2 separate regions of the Homo sapiens genome follow, and region 1 is linked to region 2. The links come from fine-mapping of genetic effects on plasma protein levels. Region 2 holds a variant in brackets. A gene starts in the other region. All regions are shown on their reverse strands. Region 1 holds the start of CRISP3 (cysteine rich secretory protein 3). Region 2 overlaps TERT (telomerase reverse transcriptase).

What was found. PIP is the posterior inclusion probability: the model's chance that the variant is causal. Protein levels are from antibody-based Olink assays in UK Biobank. Linkage for the fine-mapping came from a reference panel and not from the study's own genotypes, which makes the PIPs less certain.
Region 1: CRISP3 starts here. The variant in region 2 is fine-mapped to the plasma level of the CRISP3 protein (UK Biobank, PIP above 0.99).

Annotation. Positions count from the first base shown.
Region 1 is chr6:49,742,790-49,745,607 of GRCh38, reverse strand. It overlaps CRISP3 (cysteine rich secretory protein 3), which reads left to right and starts at 1,220. Exons shown (of 8, transcript NM_006061.4): 1 at 1,220-1,277. The coding sequence starts at 1,241.
Region 2 is chr5:1,284,241-1,287,058 of GRCh38, reverse strand. All of the region lies in intron 2 of TERT (telomerase reverse transcriptase), which reads left to right. Among named protein-coding and RNA genes, the nearest start is that of TERT, 9.4 kb to the left of the region's middle. RefSeq lists an enhancer at 1-585. The variant G/T (reference allele first, on the strand shown) is at 1,200.

The sequences.
Region 1 (2,818 bases), not on the chromosome of region 2:
TTGCCACAGAAAGAGGATTGTGTAGAAGGTTGTTCCATGGTGATTTTTTCCACATAGCTGATTTGGTTTATTGAGAGCTTCCACTTCACATGTTCATAAAGTAAACAGATTCTAGGAGTTACTTGGAGACATGGCAGCAAATGGTTAACCATTTTTTAATGGTAAAATCTGACCTGAGTTTCTGAGTTCTCAACTCTCTTATAACAGACATTTAGAAGTATCCAATTCTTGAACTCAAAATTAACTATAATTTTAAAATGTGCCTATTGTGTAGACATTGATCTGTGATTATACATTTTGTCACATTGATCAATAAAGCTAAATATAAAAATGAAAATGAACAGAAACTATTGAATTATGCACCACAAGGTGCAATCTATATGCCAATATGAGCATGCAGAAATGTCTGCGTGCTATGTATATGCTACTTGTGATTTATTAATTTATACTTCTTTATTTATATAAACTCAATATTTAAGATTATTGTATTTTAGAATCAGAGGAAATCTGAAATTGTTAGTCCACCCCACTTCATTATTGTGCTATGGAAACAAGCCTGGAATGATTGACATCTTCCATAGATGAACAGAACCAAATAATGATAATTTAGCTTGGAGATCAATATTATCTTTAATTTTATACAACCAGAAAATACAAGTAAATACAGCACATCTTTGAATATAGAAATACCAATGAGTTATGGTGTGTTTGGCCATTGAGTTCTGAAAGTCACTGTGGCCTTGTATTTACAAACATTAAAGATAAAATTATTATCCAAAACAGTAATGTCCAATAGATTATTAATAAACATTTTAGATAGCTGTAAAAAACATTGTGTTCTCTAGAGTTCATAAAAATTATGAGCTTAATTTCAATCCAACAGAAATAATTCTGAAAACTCTAATGTTGTGATGCTAATAATTGGGCTAAGAATTTTCAAACTATTGACTGGCAAAAACATGGATAAATTGTAATATATGAACTTCAAAGAATAAATGCACAATTACAAAACTTGATATAGCAATTTATTTTTAAAAGCCATTTGAGGAATCACCAAATAATTTCAAAATCATGACTAGAAAACCAGCAATGAAATTTGAGACTACTGGTATGACAAATCCTGTTTCAGGCCTTGTTGATCTAGAGTTACTTGCACAACCAGAATTTGCCAAAACAGGAAATAGGTGTTTCATATATACGGCTCTAACCTTCTCTCTCTGCACCTTCCTTCTGTCAATAGATGAAACAAATACTTCATCCTGCTCTGGAAACCACTGGTAAGTGATAACTCCTTTATTTCAAGGTGAACATTATTTATTTCAAGGTGAACAACACATTTATACCTTATCAATGATAAAGTGATATATTCGTATATTTTATCTACAATTTTCCAAAGTTTATTGATAACTTTTAATGAGAGTAATTATCTTAATATATTCATTTTAAGCTGAGAAGCTAATACATAGACAGCTTTATTATTCCAAAAGCACTTTTATCCAGTTTGAAATTTAAATAAATTTTTACCTTTCATTCTAAAGTAATATAACTAATTCCCATGTCTATGACTTGTGGAAACAATTGTACTAGAACTATTTTTAATAGAAAAATGAAAAACTATGAATATATGTGTGTGCATACTTTCACATCAGTAACTTTTACTAATATTAAAACATACAGCTATATGGGATGCCATAGCAAAAGTTTTAAATTGGTCAAAACAAAATTATAGCACTGATCTCAAGATTAAAAAGTATTTTATTAAAGACCATCAACATAAAATGCAATTTACCTCATGAAATGCACTCAGATCAAAAACAAAAAAAAAAGGCTTTTAGAAGTTTTTCAGTCAAAAGTCAGTCTACTCAGTCATGTTTATGTAGGTAATTTAAATATAATATCTATCGTGCATATTTCATCTAAGGAAGCAATTTCCACATACGGCTTTATCTTCCGTAGCATATTAGAAGTGATTCTGAAGAGTCAGATAGTAGGAGACCACAGAACTACCTAATGACAACATGAAAGGGGTTATTTACCACTAGACAGAAGATTTTAAAGTAAAATGCTTTTCTTCCCTGTGGCTAAATGCTATCCAGGAAACTCTGGGAGTATTTGCAATAGCCATAGAAGATCCGGTGTTGCCTCTTCTGCTAGTTAAAACCAAATCTAGAATGTCTGCCTGTATGACTAAGACCTCTGAAAGTGGATCAAAAGAAATTAAATTGATGACAAGTTTCAAGCCTGGGAGTTACCCTACATTGATAAGTTATGAGGTAAATTGGGGCTTCTGATTTGTAACAGGCAGGGATGAATTGGGAGGAAGAGTGTCAGAATTCTCAAGTAATGTAAATCTGATAATTGCTATGAATTTCAGTTACGTTATTTATTGAATTCAAGTAAAAGGGAGGGAATTCATCCTTGAAAAAAAAGTGCTTCTCAAGAAATGCAAGACAGCTATTCTTATTTGGATATCTTTACGAATTTCTTACTTGATGAAGTCTAGCAGTTTTGCAAACTTTGCATATTGGCATAGGCTGCTTTCTGTATCACAGATACATAATAAGATGAAAGAAAGTGATCAGAATAAAGATTAACTATTAAATTTTAAGTAAGAAAATATTGCATCAAATACTTTTCTGTGCTGTGACTAGTTTATAAATGTGTCTATACCTATAGTGCACACATTATACTCACATGTGTTAATGCTTTTGACATCTTTTCTAATCCACGTAATCCTTTAAAATATTTCTATAGTCTGTTCTTCCTCCTTTGCTTTTTAATGTTACGATGTTTGGTCTGTCTCTTAAGTTTTGTATTT
Region 2 (2,818 bases):
ACTTGCCTGTTGCATGTCCTCGTTCCCTTGTTTCTCACCACCTCTTGGGTTGCCATGTGCGTTTCCTGCCGAGTGTGTGTTGATCCTCTCGTTGCCTCCTGGTCACTGGGCATTTGCTTTTATTTCTCTTTGCTTAGTGTTACCCCCTGATCTTTTTATTGTCGTTGTTTGCTTTTGTTTATTGAGACAGTCTCACTCTGTCACCCAGGCTGGAGTGTAATGGCACAATCTCGGCTCACTGCAACCTCTGCCTCCTCGGTTCAAGCAGTTCTCATTCCTCAACCTCATGAGTAGCTGGGATTACAGGCGCCCACCACCACGCCTGGCTAATTTTTGTATTTTTAGTAGAGATAGGCTTTCACCATGTTGGCCAGGCTGGTCTCAAACTCCTGACCTCAAGTGATCTGCCCGCCTTGGCCTCCCACAGTGCTGGGATTACAGGTGCAAGCCACCGTGCCCGGCATACCTTGATCTTTTAAAATGAAGTCTGAAACATTGCTACCCTTGTCCTGAGCAATAAGACCCTTAGTGTATTTTAGCTCTGGCCACCCCCCAGCCTGTGTGCTGTTTTCCCTGCTGACTTAGTTCTATCTCAGGCATCTTGACACCCCCACAAGCTAAGCATTATTAATATTGTTTTCCGTGTTGAGTGTTTCTGTAGCTTTGCCCCCGCCCTGCTTTTCCTCCTTTGTTCCCCGTCTGTCTTCTGTCTCAGGCCCGCCGTCTGGGGTCCCCTTCCTTGTCCTTTGCGTGGTTCTTCTGTCTTGTTATTGCTGGTAAACCCCAGCTTTACCTGTGCTGGCCTCCATGGCATCTAGCGACGTCCGGGGACCTCTGCTTATGATGCACAGATGAAGATGTGGAGACTCACGAGGAGGGCGGTCATCTTGGCCCGTGAGTGTCTGGAGCACCACGTGGCCAGCGTTCCTTAGCCAGTGAGTGACAGCAACGTCCGCTCGGCCTGGGTTCAGCCTGGAAAACCCCAGGCATGTCGGGGTCTGGTGGCTCCGCGGTGTCGAGTTTGAAATCGCGCAAACCTGCGGTGTGGCGCCAGCTCTGACGGTGCTGCCTGGCGGGGGAGTGTCTGCTTCCTCCCTTCTGCTTGGGAACCAGGACAAAGGATGAGGCTCCGAGCCGTTGTCGCCCAACAGGAGCATGACGTGAGCCATGTGGATAATTTTAAAATTTCTAGGCTGGGC[G/T]CGGTGGCTCACGCCTGTAATCCCAGCACTTTGGGAGGCCAAGGCGGGTGGATCACGAGGTCAGGAGGTCGAGACCATCCTGGCCAACATGATGAAACCCCATCTGTACTAAAAACACAAAAATTAGCTGGGCGTGGTGGCGGGTGCCTGTAATCCCAGCTACTCGGGAGGCTGAGGCAGGAGAATTGCTTGAACCTGGGAGTTGGAAGTTGCAGTGAGCCGACATTGCACCACTGCACTCCAGCCTGGCAACACAGCGAGACTCTGTCTCAAAAAAAAAAAAAAAAAAAAAAATTCTAGTAGCCACATTAAAAAAGTAAAAAAGAAAAGGTGAAATTAATGTAATAATAGATTTTACTGAAGCCCAGCATGTCCACACCTCATCATTTTAGGGTGTTATTGGTGGGAGCATCACTCACAGGACATTTGACATTTTTTGAGCTTTGTCTGCGGGATCCCGTGTGTAGGTCCCGTGCGTGGCCATCTCGGCCTGGACCTGCTGGGCTTCCCATGGCCATGGCTGTTGTACCAGATGGTGCAGGTCCGGGATGAGGTCGCCAGGCCCTCAGTGAGCTGGATGTGCAGTGTCCGGATGGTGCACGTCTGGGATGAGGTCGCCAGGCCCTGCTGTGAGCTGGATGTGTGGTGTCTGGATGGTGCAGGTCAGGGGTGAGGTCTCCAGGCCCTCGGTGAGCTGGAGGTATGGAGTCCGGATGATGCAGGTCCGGGGTGAGGTCGCCAGGCCCTGCTGTGAGCTGGATGTGTGGTGTCTGGATGGTGCAGGTCAGGGGTGAGGTCTCCAGGCCCTCGGTGAGCTGGAGGTATGGAGTCCGGATGATGCAGGTCCGGGGTGAGGTCGCCAGGCCCTGCTGTGAGCTGGATGTGTGGTGTCTGGATGGTGCAGGTCTGGGGTGAGGTCACCAGGCCCTGCGGTGAGCTGGGTGTGCGGTGTCTGGATGGTGCAGGTCTGGAGTGAGGTCGCCAGACGGTGCCAGACCGTGCGGTGAGCTGGATATGCGGTGTCCGGATGGTGCAGGTCTGGGGTGAGGTTGCCAGGCCCTGCTGTGAGTTGGATGTGGGGTGTCCGGATGCTGCAGGTCCGGTGTGAGGTCACCAGGCCCTGCTGTGAGCTGGATGTGTGGTGTCTGGATGGTGCAGGTCTGGGGTGAGGTCGCCAGGCCCTGCTGTGAGCTGGATGTGTGGTGTCTGGATGGTGCAGGTCTGGAGTGAGGTCGCCAGGCCCTCGGTGAGCTGGATGTGCAGTGTCCAGATGGTGCAGGTCCGGGGTGAGGTCGCCAGACCCTGCGGTGAGCTGGATGTGCGGTGTCTGGATGGTGCAGGTCTGGAGTGAGGTCGCCAGGCCCTCGGTGAGCTGGATGTATGGAGTCCGGATGGTGCCGGTCCGGGGTGAGGTCGCCAGACCCTGCTGTGAGCTGGATATGCGGTGTCCGGATGGTGCAGGTCAGGGGTGAGGTCTCCAGGCCCTCGGTGAGCTGGAGGTATGGAGTCCGGATGATGCAGGTCCGGGGTGAGGTCGCCAGGCCCTGCTGTGAGCTGGATGTGCGGCGTCTGGATGGTGCAGGTCTGGGGTGTGGTCGCCAGGCCCTCGGTGAGCTGGA